Regions from separate parts of the Homo sapiens genome. Here all the other regions are linked to region 2. Evidence: fine-mapped expression QTL. A gene starts in region 2. Each other region holds a variant in brackets. All regions are shown on one strand. Distances are from middle to middle. Region 1 overlaps ZDHHC20 (zDHHC palmitoyltransferase 20). Region 2 holds the start of MICU2 (mitochondrial calcium uptake 2). Region 3 has its middle 28 kb from the start of ZDHHC20. Region 4 overlaps MICU2 (mitochondrial calcium uptake 2).

The links.
Region 1: its variant is fine-mapped to the expression of MICU2 in CD4 T cells (BLUEPRINT, PIP 0.95).
Region 3: its variant is fine-mapped to the expression of MICU2 in whole blood (TOPMed, PIP 0.90).
Region 4: its variant is fine-mapped to the expression of MICU2 in blood mononuclear cells (TOPMed, PIP above 0.99).

What each region holds. Positions count from the first base shown.
Region 1 is chr13:21,428,609-21,434,128 of GRCh38, reverse strand. The region is part of intron 1 of ZDHHC20 (zDHHC palmitoyltransferase 20); the gene reads left to right. Among named protein-coding and RNA genes, the nearest start is that of ZDHHC20, 28 kb to the left of the region's middle. The variant C/T (reference allele first, on the strand shown) is at 2,603.
Region 2 is chr13:21,601,231-21,606,230 of GRCh38, reverse strand. MICU2 (mitochondrial calcium uptake 2) reads left to right here and starts at 2,061. Exons shown (of 12, transcript NM_152726.3): 1 at 2,061-2,292. The coding sequence starts at 2,083. RefSeq lists enhancers at 1,878-1,947, 1,729-2,347, 2,348-2,967 and a silencer at 2,118-2,327.
Region 3 is chr13:21,484,316-21,489,816 of GRCh38, reverse strand. No RefSeq gene overlaps it. Among named protein-coding and RNA genes, the nearest start is that of ZDHHC20, 28 kb to the right of the region's middle. The variant A/T (reference allele first, on the strand shown) is at 2,727.
Region 4 is chr13:21,491,395-21,496,394 of GRCh38, reverse strand. It overlaps MICU2 (mitochondrial calcium uptake 2), which reads left to right. Exons shown (of 12, transcript NM_152726.3): 10 at 235-343; 11 at 1,077-1,234; 12 at 3,042-3,704. The coding sequence ends at 3,146. Among named protein-coding and RNA genes, the nearest start is that of ZDHHC20, 35 kb to the right of the region's middle. The variant T/G (reference allele first, on the strand shown) is at 2,725.

The sequences.
Region 1 (5,520 bases), 170 kb after region 2:
CACGCACACACACAGACACACAGACACACACACACACACACGTAGGAAAGGAAAACAAACCCTGTTGATTACCAGACTAGTCATTTATGTAGAAAATCCCAAAGAAACTGCAAACAAGCTACTAGAACCGAAAAGTGAATTGAGCCAGCATACAAGGTCAATAAAAAAACTAAAACATATTTCTAAATACTATTCTATAGCAATGAGTAATTAAAATTGGAATTTTTAGAAATGCTGTTTATAATAGCATCAAAAACATGAAATATTTTAGGGATAAGTCTAATAAAATATGTGCAAGATTCTGTGTGATAGAGAAAATCTAAAATGGAGAGCTACGCCATGGTCATGGGCTGTAAGACAATATTTCAAAGACATTACTTCTCCCCAAGTTGATCTGTAAGTTCAGCCAGTCAAAATCCAGGCATCAGCCAGCACTGGATCTCCCAGAACAAACAAACAAAAAACAAAACCAGGCAGATTTTTGTTTGTGAATTCCCGCCTCCCACCCCCACCAGATGGAGTCTTGCTCTGTCACCCAGGCTGGAGTGCAGTGGAGTGATCTCGGCTCACTGCAAGCTCCGCCTTCTGGGTTCACGCCATTCTCCTACCTCACCCTCCTGAGTAGCTGGGACTACAGGCACCCGCCACCACGCCCGGCTAATTTTTTGTATTTTTAGTAGAGATGGAGTTTTACTGTGTTAGCCAGGATGGTCTCGATCTCCTGACCTCATGATCCGCCCGCCTCAGCCTCCCAAAGTGCTGGGATTACAGGCATGAGCCACCATGCCTGGCCTTGTTTGAGTATTTTTTTAAGGAAATCAATAAGATGAGTTTAAAATTTACATGGGCCAGACACAATGGCATGCAAGCTGTCTAGCTACTCAGGAGGCCTATAGTCCTAGCTACTTGGGAGGCTGAGACAGACAGACTGCTTGAGCCCAGGAGTTTGAGACAAGCCTGGGCAATACAGCAAAATCCTGTCTCTAAAAAAGGTAAAAATAAGTAAGTATTTATATGGAAATGCAAACCTAAAATAGCCAAAATACTTTTGAAAAATAATAAGTTGGAGGACCCATACTATCTGATTTCAAGATTTACTGAAAGCTATATGTAATCAAGACTGTAGTATCTGAGTAAGAATGGACATATAGACCAGTGGAACAAAATAGAGTTCAGAAATAAACCCTTACACGTATAGTCAGTTGATTCCCATAAGAAAATTCCAGGTTAATTTAATGAAGAACAAATAGTTATTTCAACTAACACTGTAAGAACTATTCACCATTCATATGTAAAAAAATTAACCTCAACCTTTACCTGTACCATATACAAAGTATCAACTTTTTAAAATGGATTACATGGGGGGGCATGGTGGGTCACACCTGTAATCCCAGCACTTTGGGAGGCCATGGTAGGCGGATCAGTTGAGGTCAGGAGTTCAAGACAAGCCTGGCCAACATGGTGAAACCCTATCTTTATTAAAAATACAAAAAAGTTGTCCAGGAGAGATGTCTCATGCCTGTAATCCCAGCACTTTGGGAGGCCGAGGCAGGTGGATCACGAGGTCAGGAGATCCAGACCACCTTGGCTAACATGGTGAAACCCCATCTCTACTAAAAAACACAAAAAAAATTAGTCAGGCATGGTGGTGGGCGCCTGCAGTCCCAGCTACTCAGGAGGCTGAGGCAGGAGAATGGTGTGAACCCAGGAGGCAGAGCTTGTAGTGAGCCGAGATCACGCCACTGCACACCAGCCTGGGCTACAGAGCGAGACTCTGTCTCAAAAAAAAAAAAAAAATTAGTGGGACACTGTGGTGCATGCCTTTAGTCCCAGCTACTTGGGAGGCTGAGGCAGGAAAATGGCTTGAACCAGGAAGCGGAGGTTTTAGTGAGCTGAAATCGCACCACTGCACTCCAGCCTGGGCGACAGAGCGAGATTCTGTCTGAAAAATAATAAAATAAAATATGAAATAAAATGAGAGCAAGACTCTGTCTCAAAAATAATAAAAAATATGAAATGATATAAAATGAAAATGAAATATATTACAGACCTAAATATAAAACCTATAAAACTTCCAGAAGAAAACATATGAGAAACTGTGACTTTCATAGGTTGGCAAAGATTTCCCAGGCATGAATGATAAAAGAAAAAAATTGATAAATTAAATTAAGACTTCATCAAAATTAAGAGTTTGTGCTCTTCAAAAGACACTGTTAAAAATATAAAGAGGCAAGTTATGGCCTAGGAGAAAATATTGGCACACACATATCAAGATTTGTATCCAGAATATATGAAGAACTCATGACTCAATAAGCAATACAGTTAAAAGAGGGGCACCATTGAACATATAACTTCACAAATAAGGGATAGTGATTGTTAAACACATGAAAAGATGCTGTAGTTATTAGAAAAACACAAAAGTGAAATGAAGATACCACTGCATATTTTTTAGAACAGCTAAATTTTAAAAACTGTCAATTCTAAGTATTGGTGAGGATGTGGAGCAACTATAACTCTGATCCATTGTAAGTGGAAGTGCCAAACACTTTGTGCCAAATACAGCCACTTTGAAAACAGTTTGGCTGTTACTGGTAAAGTTAAG[C/T]ACATATTTAACATTAGACCCAGCAATCCCATTTTTAGATATTAAGTAATGAAAATTGATATTGTTTGGCTGTGTCCCCATCCATATCTCATCTTCAGTTGTACTCCTGTAATTTCCCCTGTGTTGTGGGAGGGACCCAGTGGGATATAATTTGAATCATGGGGGTGGTTTCCCCCATACTGTTCTCGTGGTAGTGAATGAGTCTCAAGAGAGATCTGATGGTTTTATCAGGGGTTTCTGCTTTTGCATCCTCATTTTCTCTTGCCTCCACTGTGTAAAAAGTGCCTTTTTGCCTCCAGCCATAATTCTGAGGCCTCCCCAGCCATGTGGAACTGTGAGTCCAATTAAACCTCTTTTTCTTCCTAGTCTTGGGTATGTCTTTATCACCAGCGTGAAAATGGACTAATACAAAAATATTATGTCCACCCAAAGGCTTGGTGAATACACGAGTAATCATAATAGACAAAAAGGTGAAATCACTCAAATGCCTATGAACTGATTAATGGATAAAGTTGTCATACCTCCATATAACAGAATGCTATTCGGCAGTAAAAGGACAAGCAGGGACTTCCAGTTCTGAGACAAGATGAAATAGAGACTTCTTCCTTTTCTTAGTAAGTACAGCTAAAATCCATGGAAAGTGTGCAGAAAACAAACCTGAGGAGACTCTGAAAGGTATCAAGAAGAAGCCAGATCAGCTAGGGACCTTGCGACCTGAGGAATAACATGGTGGTGTGTTCCCTAGATTTTTTTTTTCTTCATATATGTGCTAGAGAAGCTGTCAACCTGGAAACACCAATGAATACAGACCAAAACAAACCCTAGAAAAGACCAGTTTTATTAGTCAAGCCAGGAAAGGGACAACCTAGTAAGACAGAAAACTTGTAGACAATAACTGCCCTACTCTAGCCAAAAACAATAGACAAACTGTGCTCCATCCCCCACTCTCACCAGCAAAGACTGAGTATTGAGCTTAAGACCTCTCCTGCTTGCCCAGCTGTAACAAGACCCCCCTCCTGTGTCTCTTCCCCAGTATTCCTGCTGGGATAGTATCAGAAAAGGTGAAGCCCTAGTCAGGAGCCTAGATTTTCATTCCCACTGGGCAGTAATGATGTGTCCCTTCCATCCCCCCACCCCAAACAGTAACAAGTTCCCTCTCATGGTGTCAATGGAGGCTATCTGGGAAGCACTAAGGAGGCACCTCTACCCTTCCCAGCCAAGATATGTGTGCAGAAGCCTAGCAGGGAGCTGGGACTTGGACTCCCACCTGATGGCAACAAGGTGGTGCTCCCACATCTCTCACTGCACGGAGTCAGACGAGGCCTGCAAAAACAAATTTAAATAAGATCTAGAGTCTCAGCATAATACTAAAACATTTCAGGATACAATTGAAAACCATCCATCCTACCAAGAACCAGGAAAACTAAATGAGAAAAGAGAATAGATACTAAAACCAAAAAGACACAGATGTTGGAATTACTTGACAAGGACTTTAATGCAGCTATCTTTAAAGTGATTCAATTTGCTATTGAATTATGAAAAAATAGAATTCTCAACAAAGAAATAGAAGATGTAAAGAACCAGATGGAGATTTTTAAACTGAAAATACAATAGCCAAAATTTTAAAAAGTCAACTGAACAGCAGAATGGAGAGGGCAGAGAAAAAAAGTGAAGTGAATGAACTTGAAGATAAAACATTAGAAATTACCCAATCTGAACAAAAGAGAGAAAATATACTGAAAAATAAAAATGAACAAATCATCAGGGACTTGTGGGACTATTTTTAAAAGTTCTAATATTTGTACCATCAGAGTCCCAGGGGAGAAGAAAGACGATATGGTTGAAAAGGTATTCAAAGAAATGATAGCTTAAAATTTTCAAACTTGGCGAAGGACATATTCAAGAAGAACTTAAGAAGTTCAGCAAACTCTGAACAGGAAAATCCCAAAGAAATCCACTCCAACATACATTATAACCAAATTTCTGACCACTAAATATAAAATCTTGAAAACAGTGAGGACACTTTACCTATAGGGGAAAAACAGAATAACAGCAGATTTGTCATCAGAAACCGTGGAATTTAGAAGGAAGTAGTACATATTTAAAGTACTGAATGAAAAGAACTGTCAACCCAGAATTCTATATCCAGCATATAACTGGCCCATCAAGGTTGAAAGTTGACAGTTGTACATTCAGATAGCACATCCTCACATTATAAGAATTCAAAGCAAAAACAGGATAAAGGAAATAATAGAGCTTCTTTCTCACGTGCTTCTCACTTGTTAAGGAGGGCAAAAAAATTTTTTCCCAGTGACAGTTTTTCCCTCCCTCAAGATGTATCCATTTGCAAGAACTGGATCCCATAGCCATAGTAGATACAAGTATACTGATAAAGTGAGTATCTGATATTTTCAGGCTCAATAAGTGGGAGACAGGCAAGAAAAGGGGGCAATGAAGTGAAGAATAGGACATAGCCAGCCCTCATGTTCACAAAGAACCATAAATTAATGTTGTCTCTAAATGAGGTTAGTGTCATTGACAAGATTGAAAAATGACATTTCTTACATAAAAAAATGTATAAACATTTAGTGTGCCTAATAATTTTTGTTGTTGTTGGGTTTTTTTGTTGTTGTTTTGTTCTTTTGTTTTGTTTTATTTTGTTTTGTTTTTGAGGCAGAGTGTCACTCTTTCACCCAGGCTGGAGTGCAGTGGTGTGATCTTGCCTCACTGCAACCGCCTCCCAGGTTCAGGCGATTCTCCTGCCTCATCCTCCTGAGTAGCTGGGACTACAGGCGCACGCCACCATGCCCAGCTAATTTTTTGTATTTTTAGTAGAGATGGGGTTTCACCATCTTGGCCAGGCTGGTCTTGAACTCCTGACCTCGTGATCCACCTGCCTCAGCCTCCCAAAGTGCTGA
Region 2 (5,000 bases):
AAGATTTTTGGCAAAATAAAAAGAAGCTTTTGTTTTGAAAATAAAGTACCCCAAAGGAATAATATACTTCTGTATTTTGGATGGCCAAAGCATAGAAATATGAACCCCTGAGTTTCATTTGTGCCATTTATTTATTCACTTATTTACTCACTCATTGAATGTCTATTACGTGCTGGGCATTGTGCTAGGTGCTAGAGAAACAGGGAAAAGGAAGACATCTCACCCACAAGGATGTCAAATTGTGGGAGAAAGACAATGTTCTTAAATATGCTACATGTTTTAATGGGAATCTAAACTTATCTTGGGCTTAAGGCAATACTGAGTAATAGATGCCAGGTTTCATTAAATACCTAGAGGAACTGTGTGAGGCAGTTAGAAGTATACACGTAAAGACTGTGGTTTCTGGAAATCAAGAATAAACTACAAGGTAAGACATCCAGGGTGTCCAAAATATCCTGGAAGTCCTATTATCACCAGGAAACAAGCTAGATGTCAATAGTCCAGAAAAGCAGGACATGTGCCAAAGCTACCAGAGTTAGCAGAGGTGAAAAACAGTCCAGAGGTTGACAAAGTCAGGCTAGATACAAAAAAGCAGGAAAATCTCAGGTTAAGATGGGCTAGTGATCTGGAATCATGGACATTCAGTCAAGCTCATTTGTGTTCACAGGGCAGAAGTAAACCAAACCTTGACCACAGTAAACGCACATCTGTCATGAGCCTACCATGTGCCAGGCATTTGGCTAGTCACTTTATATAAAATATCTCATTTAGCTTCCCCACCCCAAACTGTAAGAGGGTTGTTCACAGATGAAAAAATTGAGACTCAAAGAGATTAAATACCTTACCCCAAATAGCAGTGATCATCTACCAAATCGTGAGTTATTTACAAATGAGAAAATGGAGACTCAGAGAGATTAAATAATTTGCCCCAAACCACAGTGATCATCCTGGTAGAGCTAAGATTCAAACCTTGAGGTCTGGCTCACAAGTCGGTGAAGTGAGGCTCATCTCTCTACTTCCTACCTGGGAAGGCACACTGAAAAGTAAGTCCAGAAGCTGACGGAAAAGTGAGGAACCTCTGACTGCAGATTAATTTAGACAAGCGGGCTAAGAGAAAGGGAGCAAGGATTAAGGGCAGATAATAACAAAGGGATCCACGGAACTTCCACTGAATGATCAAATTAGATTTCGTGTGACAGGTTTTTGTTTTTGTTTCTTGAAGTTTTGTTTTGTGCAAAACTTCAAGACAGCAGTGATTATGTGATTAGGAGTCTTGGCCCCTTTGATGTTGGCTCCGTTACTGCATGCCCAACTAAAGCTTCTAATAGCTGGGGACATTTCAGAGGCTGAACAAAGAGTTTATTAAAAAGAGTTACTCAGGAAAAGTGAAGACCAAAGAATGGAGGATTGGAGGCTGTTAAATAAAACCAAGTAGTCTGCCTCAGCTACATCACTTATCACCAATGCAACAGCCAGGACTGGAGGTATCGTTCTAAATCTGCACTGGGGAAAACCTCTGGGTCCCTGATGATAGAGACATGGGGCTGGTGTGCTGCTGTCTCTGACTTTTAGTTCTAGGTAGGATAAGAGCTACTATCAAACCTTTTGTTGAAACTGAATTTAAATTCATTATAAGCAAATAGTGAGGGACTGAAATAAACAGAATGCCTTGTCTGAGAGTTGTTTTAGCAGAAATGAAAGAACAGTCAAGACTATAAGCATAGGAAGACATGAACAACACAGATGCAGAAGAGACTATTTCAAAAAACGTTTCACAGTTTTACAAGGTGAAAAAATGAAAAGGAGAAACCTGCCCACACAACCGAGGGCACTATCTTGTTTTGGACTAGGAAGTCATATTATACTGTCTTGATACTCTTCCTGTCATCCCATCCCCACAGCCTTAGAAGGCAGCCCCGGAACCGAAGGCCACCTCTTGCGGCTGCGAGCGTCGCCTCAGCAACCGCACCCACGGCGCAGGCCCGGTAGGCGGGGCGGAAGCCTGTCGGATGTCGCGAGAGTTCCCAAGCGGTAGGCGGCGGCGCCGGGAGAGAAGCGCCGCCTAGCTGCGCTTCCGCAAAGATGGCGGCGGCTGCGGGTAGCTGCGCGCGGGTGGCGGCCTGGGGCGGAAAACTGCGACGGGGGCTCGCTGTCAGCCGACAGGCTGTGCGGAGTCCCGGCCCCTTGGCAGCGGCAGTGGCCGGCGCGGCCCTGGCAGGAGCAGGAGCGGCCTGGCACCACAGCCGCGTCAGTGTTGCGGCGCGGGATGGCAGTTTTACAGTCTCCGCACAGGTACAGGACTAACTCCTTCTGCTAGCCCCAGTCAAGCTCCTCCCTCCCCTGACGCCCTTAGGCGGGGAGTGGTTTGGCTCTGGGCGGCTCTCCCGGAGCCGTGGGTGGAGGTGCCGCTGCGGATCGGAGCGCCCTGCGACTGGTGGGACTCGCTCCTTCCTGGACCGGCCCCCGGCCTGAGTCCCCGAGGGCCTTCGAGGCTGGTGACCGGAGATTCTGCCTCCCTTGGGAGAACCCCGCGGACGCTGAACACCACGGCCCACAAAACTGGCCGCACTAATTTAGTGGTGATGAGTGTGGGCGTGTCTTAATTCGAGGCTCCTAATTCAGAATCTCACTGCGCCTCGCCTCTTGCTACCTCTCTGGTCAGTGAAGTGGCATTCACATCCGCAGGTGGTTTGCGTCCAGTTACCCCTGTGGGATATACCTTTGTTAAGCTTTGCAACTAAGTTTTACGATCTTTTCTTTGTATAGCATGATGAAGTTCTGTCGATTGCTTTTTTAAGTCACGAATGTGTCAGCCACAAAAATTAACCAGTTGATTTCCAGATTTTATTATCAACTTTAAGGAACATTATTGCATGATTATAAACCTTAATATCTTAGTGGACCATAAGTTCTAAGCAAAAATTGCTCCTAAAACCTCCATCTATTAAAGACAAGAGTCCGCCGGGCGCGGTGGCACACGCCTTTAATCCCAGGGCTTTGGGAGGCCGAGGCGGGTGGATCTCCTGAGGTCAGGAGTTCGAGACCAGCCTGGCCAACATGGTGAAGCCGCTCCCCACCCCAGCCCCGCCCCCCCGGTCTCTACTAAAAAATATAAACAATTAGCTGGGTGTGGTGGCGGGAGGCTGAAGTAGGAGAACCGCTTGAATCCGGGAGGCGGAGGTTGCAGTGAGCCAAGATCGAGCCATTGCACTCCAGCCTGAGCTACAAGAGCGAAACTCCGTCTCAAAAAAAAAAAAAAAAGATTCAAGTTCCCTATTTCAGGATAAATGATGTTGTAACGCATTTGAAAATTTGAATGAGTAGTGCTTTAAAATTTTTGTAGACTTAGTAAGTTTTTACATATGAGCTTTTTTGAAAATTGAAAGTAGTAGTTTATTATTTTCTTTTTTAGATTTACATTATGCCTTTCTAGCGAAAAACTCAAGGAACATTCAGATACAACAAAAAAGAGAGGAAAGAAGGCCTTGTGAGTTAAAATTAAGTATTGGCAACTGATATTCCTTATTTGTATTAACATACATTATAATTATATTGTAAACATATATAATGGAAAGATCTATTATCTAGTGTTTTTATAGCATTTTTGTGAATCTTGTGCCAAGGAGTTCAGTGTATTCATCATTAGTTTCTCTCCCCTAGATTCATCCTGGTTTTTTTGTTTGTTTTTTGTTTTTGTTTTTGTTTTTTTTGAGAGGAGTCTCGCTCTGTCGCCCAGGCCGGACTGCAGTGGCGCTATCTCGGCTTACTGCAAGCTCCGCCTCCCGGGTTCACGCCATTCTCCTGCCTCAGCCTCCCGAGTAGCTGGGACTACAGGCGCCCGCCATCGCGCCCGGCTAATTTTTTGTGTTTTTAGTAGAGACGGGGTTTCACCGTATTAGCCAGGATGGTCTCGATCTCCTGACCTCGTGATCCGCCCGCCTTGGCCTCCCTAAGTGCTGGAATTACAGGCGTGAGCCACTGCGCCCGGCCGATTCATCCTGTTTTTAAGACCCTTAGGTTAATCTTCTCCGGAGTATCACTTTAACCACACAGTGTACCCTTCTTCAGAAACCCTTCTTCAGTGTCTCATTTTGCCAAGAGTAAAATGCACTTTTTTTTTGTTGTTGAGATGGAGTCTCTGTCACCCAGGCTGGAGTGCAGTGGCGTGATCCCGGCTCACTACAACCTCTTAACTCCCCGGTTCAAGTAATTCTCCTACCTCAGCCTCCCAAGTAGCTAGGATTACAGGCATACGCCACCACGTCCAGCTAATTTTTTTTTGTATTGTTAGTAGAGCCGGGGTTTCACCATGTTGGCCAGGATGGTCTCGATCTCCTGACCTCGTGATCCGCCTGCCTTGGCCTCCCAGAGTGCTGGGATTACTGGCGTGAGCCACAGCGCCCGGCCAAAATGCACATTTTAAAACTTTGTCTTTCAGAGCCTTTTATAGTCACACTCTGACCTGACACTACTCAGGCACCTTCCCACTAAAGTGATTCACTCACTATCCCTAGAACAAGACTTAAATACCGCTCACCCGCCAGCTGCAATTTGTAGACTCTTGATTTCACTTATCCATCTAATTGTTTTTTTTTTTTCTGGCCCACTTCTAATCTTTCTCCTTTGAAATCCCTGACTTGATTCTAAAAGCTTCACACTAGTGTAGTTATTTTGGATTCTCTTCCCAACTCTCAGCTCTCCTTCCCTGCAGCTTTGTAAGTTTAATCTTAGCTAAAGTAATACAGAAACCATTTTATTATCAATCGTTTTATAAGGTCTGTTGGCATAGCATTTGCCTGATCTGCTATTGGACCGAGACAGTGGTTCTCATCCTTTTGCCACCACGGTGGACATTCCTTTCAGCATCAGTGGCTGAATACAGGAAGGATTGAGAGGACCTATAGGTTGAAAACTTTGCCTTCGCCTCAGTGATTTTGATACATTTCCCTAAGAAGTGGGCCTACTACCACTACTTTAGGGACAGGTGTGCATAGTTGAGC
Region 3 (5,501 bases), 120 kb after region 2:
CATAGCCTTTTTGTAAGGATTGAGATGATGTATGAAATGCACTGGAGTAAACCTTTAGCAGCTTTTAAATATTAATGCTGTTAACTTCTTATTTCAGATCCTCCTTCACAACAGACTTATTTTCTGAAACATAAATCTGATCATGTCACTACGCTTCTGATAATCTTACGACACTAAAATCGCTTAAAAAATAAAATTCAACTCTACATGATCTTGCCCCATCTATCTTTCTCATATCCTAACACTTGCCACCACACACTTTACACTACAACAATACTGAATTACTTCTCATCACCCCGCTTGGCCATGTTCTCACTCTCCAAGTGTTTGCACTTACTAGTGCTTCTGTTGAAGATGCTCCCACCTGCCTAACTTCCAGTGCCATTTCATCTGCAAAGTTTTCCATTTTTCTCCCTGCTTTTCCCTCAAATTCATTTAGGGATACATGCTGTTAGTTCCCTCACACGTTTCTGTCCACATATCTTTCAAGCCTCATTAAAGTATACTGGAATTCTTTTATGTATTTGCCTCTTCCCCTTGGCTATGAGCTCATTGATAGCAACAACATGACTCCTTTAACGCTATCTCCCAGCATCCATCAAAGAGCTAGCACATACTCGCTCAAAAAAATGTTTGACCTATGAATTAGTTAACAAAAAGGAAAGTGGAACAAGAAATAACCCTGGGCCAGGCACGGTGGCTCATGCCCACCGCTAATCCCAGCACTTTGGGAGGCTGAGGCAGGCGGATCACCTGAGGTCAGGAGTTCAAGACCAGCCTGGCCAATATGGCAAAACCCCAACTCTACTAAAAATACAAAAATTTAGCGAGGCATCCTGGCACGCACCTGTAGTCCAAGTTACTCGGAAGGCTGAGACAGGAGAATCACTTGAACCTGGGAGGCAGAGGTTACAGTGGGCCGAGATTGTGCCACTACATTCCAGCCTGAGTGACAGAGGGAGATTCTGTCTCAAAAAAAAAAAAAAAAAAAAAAATCCCCATATGTGCTTTAGCTGTTCTCACATACCAGCTTTTCTGTTACAGGACTGGACAGGAGAGAGTAGATGGCTTAAGGGAGCTTTAAGACAGCTCTGGTTTGGCCTCTGCTTTGGACACAGATAGCAAATATCAAGAGAGACTGGCCAGGGGTTCTGATACGGTTAGAAAGCAGAACAGGTTCTGGGAATGGAAACAAATTGAAATGTCCTCCCAAAGTTTGGAAACAAGGTTACCCTCCAGGTGTTAAATCATAAAAATCAAAGCATAATGTAGAGGCCAGGCATGGTGGCTCATGCCTGTAATCCGAGCACTTTGGGAGGCCGAGGCGGGAGGATCACTTGAAGTCAGGAATTCAAGACCAGCCTGGCTAACATGGTGAAACCCCGCCTCTACTAAAAACATGAGATTAGCCAGGTGTGATGGCAGGCACCTGTAATTCCAGTGACTCAGGAGGCCAAGGCAGGAGAATCGCTTGAAATCAGGAGGCAGAGGTTGCAGTGAGCCAAGATTGCACTCCAGCCTGAGCAACAAAGTGAAACTCTGTCTCAAAAAAAAGGCATAATGTAGGGAATGATGTCAGGGAAGATAGCAGAGCAGGAGGCTCCAGGAATCTGTCCCTTCACCTAAACAACTATTGAACTGGCAGGAATTGTCTTATTTTGGAACATTTCTGACATTTGAGGGAGAGTTTGATGAAGTTGCTAGTAAATTTTGGTGAACTTCAGCCTTTTGTGATGTAGCAGCAACAGCAAAAAGCCTGCCACCCAGCATCAGGAAACTGTCAGGGAAGCAGCCCACATTCCTGGGGCAGCTTCCTGGAACCAGTGTGAGCACAAAAGACCTTATCCTCCAGGAGTGGGGGTCATGTGTTCTGCTAGCTGCTTGCTGATTTTGATAAAGTGATGAGGGGCCAGGCTGGAGGCCAACCATTTTTTAATGCCCACTTCACAAGCTGAAGCAGCTTCCCAGCCACAAGAGATTTAAAGAGACAGGATATCTTCCCTCCTTCTTGAAAGTCAGACATTTAAGGACATTTTTGTCAGGTTACTGGCTAACTGTAGAGATAACAGAAAAGAAACCTCAGTAGCCACACACAACAAGGAAGATACATTGTTTGGAAAAGGCACAAATAGGAATGGGTCCAGCCCACAACAAGCAAAAACAAGCAATCCCTAAGGAGTAGAATTAGATTCCAGAGTTACTACAACATAATGCTCAGAATAACCAGTTCTCAACAAAAAATTATAAAACATGTAAAGCAACAGGAAAGTATGATCCATTCACAGGATATAAAGAATTTCACAGAAACCATACCTAAAGAAGACCAGACTTTGGAATTATTAGTCAAAGATGTTAAATCAATTGTTTTAAATATGTTCAATATGTTTTCTAAAGGAAACCATGAATAAACACTAATAGAAATCAAGAAAACAATGTCTGAACAAAATGAAAGTATAAATAGAAATTATAAAAAGGAGCCAAACAAAATCTGCAATAACTAAAATGAAAAATGCAATAGAGGGATTCAACAGCAAGTTTGAACAAGGAAAAGAGAGGACTGGCAAAATTGAAGATAAGACATTGAAAATTACCCAGTCTAGGGAAAAGAAAGAAAGAGTGAAGAAAAATGAAGACAGCCTGAGGAACCTATGGGACCTCATCAAGCATACCAAATACACATTATAGGAATCCCAGAAGGAGAAGACATAGAGAAAGGAGCAGCAAAA[A/T]ATTTGAAGAAATAATAGCTGACAACTTCCCAAATCTGATTAAAAACATGAATATATACATCTAAGAAGCTCAATGAACTCCAAGCAGGAAAACTTTGAAGAGATACACACTGAGACATATAGTCAAATTATCAACTCCCATAGACAAAAAGATAATTTTGAAAGCATCAGGTAGAAGTGACTCATGCGGCCAGGTGCGGTGGCTCATGCCTGTAATCCCAGCACTTTGGGAGGCTGAGGTGGGCGGATCATGAGGTCAGGAGATTGAGACCATCCTGGCTAACACGGTGAAACCCCATCTCTACTGAAAATACAAAAAATTAGCTGGGCGTGGTGGCGGTCACCTGTAGTCCCAGCTACTCAGGAGGCTGAGGCAGGAGAATGGCCAGAACCTGGAGGCAGAGCTTGCAGTGAGCCAAGATCACACCACTGCAGTCCAGCCTGGGCGACAGAGCAAGACTCCGTGGAAAAAAAAAAAAAAAAAAAAAAGTGACTCATGCATGTACAAGAGACCTTCATTAAGAATGACAGTTTATCTTCCACTAGAAACCATGGAGGCCAAAAGGCACTGGATGACATATTTAAAGTCTTGAAAGAAAAAGACTGTCAACCGAGAACTCTATATACAGCAAAACTATCATTCAAGAATGAAGGAGAAATTAAGATATATCCAGATTTAAAAGACTGAGTCTTATTACCAGTACTGCCCTACAAGAAATGCTAAACGGAGTGCTTCAGACTGAAATGAAAAGACAATAGACAGTAATTCAAAGACAGAAGAAAAAAAAATACTACTAAAGGTAACTTCATAAGTATATATAAAAGCCACTGGGCCACAAATATGTGGAAATTAACAACCCACTCAAACAACCAATGCCTCAAAGAAAAGGGAAATGAGAACATACGTTGAGACAAATAAAAATGAAAACACAACAGCAAAACTATGAGATGCAGTGAAAGCAGTGCTAAAGAGGGAAATTTTTTTTTTTGGGGGGGATGAAGTCTTGCTCTTGTCCCCCAGGCTGGAGTGTAATGGCACGATATCGGCTCACTGCAACCTCTGCCTCCCGGGTTCAAGCAATTCTCCTGCCTCAGCCTCCTAAGTAGCTGGGATTACAGGCGCCTGCCACCATCCTGGCTAATTTTTGTATTATTAGTAGAGATAGGGTTTCACCATGTTGGCCAGGCTGGTCTCAAACTCCTGACCTCAGGTGATCCGCCCACCTTGGCCTCAAGTGCTGGGATTACAGGCATGAGCCATCGCGTCCAGCCTTAAGACAGAAATTAATAGCTATAAATGTTTACATTTAAAAAGAACAATAATCTCAAATCAACAACTTTACACCTTAAGGAACCAGAAAAAGAACAAATGAAATTCAAAGATGGAAGGAAATAAAGAAAACCTAAACTGTGATTTAATGTATTGACAGAGGCTCCTTACGGACAAGTTTGAGAGTTAAAAACTCCAGGCTGGGTGTGGTGGCTCACGCCTGTAATCCCAGAACTTTGGGAGGCCAAGGTGGATGGATCACCTGAGGTGGGGAGTTCGAGACCAGCCTGACCAACATGGAGAAACCCCGTCTCTACTAAAAGTACAAAATTAGCCGAGCATGGTGGCACATGCCTATAATTCCAGCTACATGGGAGGCTGAGGCAGGAGAATAGCTTGAACCTGGGAGGTGGAGGTTGCAGTTAGTTGGTTGAGATCATGCCATTGCACTCCAGCCTGCGCAACCAGAGCAACACTCTGTCTCAAAAAAAAAAAAAAAAAAAAAAAAAAACCTCCAGAGGGCCCTGACATGGTGGCTCATGCCTGTAATCCCAGCACTTTGGGAGGCCAAAGCGGGAGGATCACTTGAGGTCAAGAGTTCAAGACCAGCCTGACCAACATGGGGAAACACCCCGTCTCTACTAAAAATACAAAAATTAGCCAGGCGTGATGGGTTATGCCTGTAATCCCAGCTACTCAGGAGGCTGAGGCAGGAAAATCACTTGAACCCGGGAGGTGGAGGTTGCAGTGAGCTGAGATTGCACTACTGCACTCCAGCCTGGGTGACAGAGTGAGTCTCTGTCAAAAAAAAAAGAAAGAAAAGAAAGAAAAGAAAAGAAAGAGAAAGACAAAGAAAGAGAAAGAAAGAAGACAAAGAGAAAGAGACAGACAGAAAGAGAAAGAAAGAAGACAAAGAAAGAGAAAGAGAGAGACAGAGAGACAGAAAGAGAAAGAAAGAAAAGAGAAAATGCTCTTGTATAAAGTACCTGCATACCCTTGAAGTAGTATAGTGTTATTTCAAAGAGGACATGGACCCCCATCTCTACAAAAAATTAAAAATAAAATAAATTAGCCGGGCATAGCGATGCATACCTACAGCCCTAGTTACTCAAGAGGCTGAGGCAGGAGGATCGCTGGAGCCCAGGAGTTTGAGGCTGCAGTGAGCTGTGATTGCACTACTGCACTCTAGCCTGGGTGGCAGAGACCCTGTCCCCCCCCATCCCACCCCACCTCCCCCAAAAAAAAGAAGGAAAGAAAGAAGACATGGGTTAGTTATAAACATATACTGCAAACTCAAGGACAACCACCAAAAAAGTAAATAACTTCTTTAAGTTATGTTCAAAGGCTCCCATAACAATAAAATACAAACCTTCACCAAGGTCTCAAGGTTCTTCCTGCCCCTGCCCCTGACACTCCCAACCTCACCTTCTCTCCTTCCCACTCTTGCTCAACCACTATGGCCATCTTGTTTTCCCTGGAACCCCTCAAGCTCTCTCCTGCCTCAA
Region 4 (5,000 bases), 110 kb after region 2:
AGGGCCAGTTTCTGGTGAGGCCTCTTGCCCAGCCTGCACACAGCACCTTCTCACTGTGCCCTTTGTGTGGCCATTTCTGTGTGCACACAGAGAGAAAGGGACAGAGAAAGCTCTGTTGTCTCTTCCTCTTAGAATGATACTAGTCTCTACGGTAGAAAAGAAAGTTCATAGTTAACATTTATAAGATTATTTAATGTACTTACAAAATTGTAATAAAAACTCTTACTTTATTAGAGCATTAGTTTGGATGAATTCAAGTCATTTTGCCATTTTACAACCCACTTGGAAGACTTTGCTATTGCCATGCAGATGTTCAGTTTAGCTCATCGTCCTGTCAGACTAGGTAAGTTATATGAAAAACCATTTAATTTTTATCATCTATAAACAGTTTTACTATATTCTTCAACTAAATGCTACCAATCAAGGAACAAATTATAAGTAAAAATAGTTGATTGACCTTTTAATTCAGTGTGGTTATTCTAGATTTAGAATACCAGTACTCCAGTTTAATGGTTACTTTCTATACTTTTATTTTCTCATTCTCCTAAAAAGAAGGAAGAAGGCCGGGCATGGTGGCTCATGCCTGTAATCCCAGCACTTTGGGAGTCCAAGGTGGGCGGATCACAAAGTCAGGAGTTCAAGACCAGCCTGGCCAACATGGTGAAACCCCATCTCTACTAAAAATACAAAAACTAGCTGGGCGTGGTGGCAGGCGCCTGTAATCCCAGCTATTCAGGAGGCCGAGGCAAGAGAATCGCTTGAACCCGGGAGACGGAGGTTGTAGTGAGTCAAGATCGTGCCATTGCACTCCAGCCTGGGCGACGAGCAAGATTCATCTCAAATATATGTTTAGAGCATTGATTAAATTACAATAGCTCATTTGTCTTGCAGTGACTCTCATGACATTCGTCGGCTTATGGTTTGAATATTTTCTTCATGGGTATTTTTGTTTTTGTTTTACTTCCCAAATAATAAAAATTTGGATTTGCTTTTACTTCTCAAATAATGAAAATTTAGATTAATTTCACTTAGACTATTTCACATAGTTGATAAGTTGTTTTATGTTTGTTTTTTAGCGGAGTTTAAGAGAGCTGTGAAAGTAGCAACAGGACAAGAACTCTCAAACAATATTTTGGACACTGTCTTTAAGATCTTTGATTTGGATGGTGATGAATGTCTTAGTCATGAAGAGTTTCTTGGGGTGTTAAAAAACAGAATGCATCGAGGTTTATGGGTAACAGATTTTTTTTATATAATACATGTTTACATTGTCATTAACTGATATTAAACCTAGAATTTGGGCAATTGTACAGTCTTTAAATGGAGTTTTCATCACTTATAAAAAGACTATAAGCTGTAATTGAAATACAGAAATATATTTTATATATGAGATTAAACATCTTTGCTTTTTAAAAAATAATGTGAATCTAATAAGAAATCACTATTTAAAGTGACTGTGAGCTACGATCGCACCACTGCACTCTAGACTGTGCAACAGAGCAAGCCCTTGTCTCCAAAAAAAAATAATTTTTTAAAAAAGAAATTACTATTCAGAAATGTAGCCTAGCTGGACATGGTGGCTCACATCTGTAATCCCAGCACATTGTGGGAGGCCGAGCCGGGTGGATCACTTGAGGCCAGGAGTTTGAGACCAGCGTGGATAACATCATGAGACTCTGTTTCTACAAAAAAAGGGAAAAAAAATCATAGCCTAGGATTTGACTAACTACATGTAATTAGATATATGTAAATTCAAATCCCACCTCTACTGTTTATTAACTGCTTAATCTTGCAAAGCCACTTAATTTTTTTTAGTCTCAGATTCTTGACCCATACCATGAGGAAACTAATCTACCAGAAAGCATTATTGTTAGAATTTGATGTAAAATACTTAGTATAGTGGCTGAGATTATGAAGTAAATTTCACTATTAGCATTATTCACTCAAAGTCACATATGAGTCTATACTTGTGGGACAAATCAAATTCAGATTTTTGTTCAGATTAGAATGTGCTAGAAGCACTCTCAGAAAAGAAGTCTGCCAGGGGAAGACTAGGGTCCAAAGAGAATCTACATGGTTGGTAGGTAGGCAAGAAAAAAGGAAGGAGAGAGAGAGAGAATATGGTACTATTCATGAAAATAAAGCTATTTACAACTTAGAAAAGCAATTCCATTTCCTGCAACAAACATAACTTAGGGAAAAATAAATATTATTTTCATTAGCAAACATATTAATATTTTATAAACTTTGCAGTTATCCAACACCCATAAATATATTCCGGGAAATTAAGCCAGTCTTTTCAGTTCACAATTGAGTGTACCTGGGAGTCTCCTTGCCCTTTCTCAGAAGACATTAAAAAGAAAAGCTGTAAATCAGTCATAAGAAAAAGAACATATATAATCTGGAGTAGAATTTTGCTTCCACTTGGCTAATTTTCATCAGTGCTATGCTCCTGTGGTCCCCCGGATCCAAATATTTCCTAACCTTTACCTTTTCATTTTGTTGAGAGTAGTAGTAATCCACATGTATTTTTAGCTAACAAAACACGTCCATGAATTAGATTATTTCTTGAAGCTTTTCATCAAATACTTTGTGGCCTTTTTTTTTTTTAATTTTAGCCAATGTTAAATCAAAGCTTTAGGCTTATAATTGTATTCTACATAGCTAAACAAAGTTCACCAGAAAAAAAGGGAAAGATTATAAAACATTATAAAAGGAAAACAT[T/G]ATAAAGTAATTAAATTTTAAAGCCAGTATGTGAAAGAAGAGATGGCCCAAAGTCTTCATTACCCTCTTAGAGAAGAAACTCCATTAATGTGTGCTCAGTCTGGTTCCACTCCCTAGTAACCTTAAGCATAGTTACATTCACTTTTTGTCTTTTACCCCCATTTTCAGTTCTGTTGTGATCATCTTTTACAACATAATTCACCCTCAACTATTTTTGGAGGAGTGTGGGAAGGAAATAAACAGTAACGTAAAGTATATATGAAATCATGTTTAACCTTGAAGACAATGACCCCTTGATTTTTACTTTCGGTTAACAGGTACCACAACATCAGAGTATACAAGAATACTGGAAGTGTGTGAAGAAAGAAAGCATTAAAGGAGTAAAAGAAGTCTGGAAACAAGCTGGAAAAGGTCTTTTTTAATAAAAGATATAATAGTATGGCAATTATATTGTTCCAAATGTCAAAATTTGTGATTTTTTAGAAGTACTTGCTATTTATCTTCTTAAGTCTTCATTGATATTCTGTGTGAAATAAGCATGTCTTGTACTTGCTTTCTGATTCATAATTTTATTAAAGAACTTAGTAGAAAGAAAAGTAAGTATAAAAATAGATATTGGATTCTGTCAGAAGGCCTAGATTTGAAATAATGTTTTGTACTTCGGTAAGATGGAAAACTTAGTGATTCACTGATTTCTTAGACACTCTAATATGATATGCTTTCTGGAAGGATAAAACAAATACATATGGGAAAAAGTACTTGAGACCAAGGCCAGCATCAATTCCAGACATCTTCATGTTCCTAATAGGCTAAATGAAGTTAAAAACTTATTTCAGATTTTTCTCATCTGTACCTTATATCTCATAAATTTATTGCATATTTTATGTCAGTAGCTTAGCTGTTTATTGTCTTTAAAATAACATGTAAACTTCAATGTTCTATCTGGAAGCAGAATAAAATATTTACATAGATACAAAAAATACTGAGGTGCTTTTTATTTTACATGTGTTTTTAAAACTACTTTAAAAAAAATTGTAAATACTCTCATCCCTTGCCAGCCTCATTAGTTCTTAAAACCTGGTGTAGCTGGGAGAAATTTTGACCCCAAGGTCAGGGGCTCATGGGATATATTAGGTTGTGGGAAACAAATGTTGCCAGAAGGTAATTGGCATTAAACTGAATATCAAATGGCATTTTTTAAAACCTGGTAAATAAAAATTATAAAAAACTTGTGTCTCAGACACACAATTTAGAAAATTGCAAATATATAAAACCAGTTCCATTCTCTAGAGAACTGGCTGATCCCAAGGCCGTGACAGGGAAAGTCCAAGATAAGCCTAGAATATATTGTGCCTAAAAGTAAAGAAGGGCTCACAAAATGGTGAAGAGTCAGAAGGACAAAGCCAGCTTGAAGGGGCTGCCCCTGTCAAATCTGGTTCAGTTTGAGGGTCAGAATAATTAATGTCCGTAATAGATTATAGCCTATTGAATGAAATAAGAATTCATGAGTTTACACCAAAAATTAATGAGGCCAGAGAAACCTCTCCCTTATTGTTGAAGGATAATGCCTTGAAATATGTTAATCCACTAAATTGAAAAACTCTCCCTCACAGTTTAATGATTGAAATCGACAAGAGGCAAAAGCTTTTGTCCATTTATTACAAAAAATATTTTGCTCCTGATTCAAAAACAAATTTGCTCTAATGAATTGTTTTATAAATAATTGCTTATAAAATAATTTTTTCTCTCTCTTATAAAACCAAAAGATAGGCAATGCAAGAAAGTATAAGTATGAATGAATGAATCCTCCACCATTTTCTCTGTCAACCACAAAAATGCTGACTCCTCACCTGTCTTTCCAGATGCCCTTATGGGTCAAGATTAGGGGCACAAAAATCCAAAAATTAAGATGGTTTCTCATGCCTTCACAGGCTTCACTTTTTCAGCCTCACCTGGCACTGATTTGTCTGCCCCACTTTCCACAGCATTCCATGAATACTGTTTTGTGCTCCAGCGACATAAAGCTCCTGGCCTTTCCTCATGTACACCATGTGCGTTTCACATACCCCTACCCCTAAGCTTGTTACACATGCCATTTCCTTCTGACAGCGATGCCTTTCCCTCGCTATCTTTTTTTTTTTTTTTTTTTTTTTTTGAGACGGAGTCTCACTCTGTTGCCCAGGCTGGAGTGCAGTGGCACGATCTCGGCTCACTGCAAGCTCTGCCTCCTGGGTTCATGCCATTCTCCTGCCTCAGCCTCCTGAGTAGCTGGGACT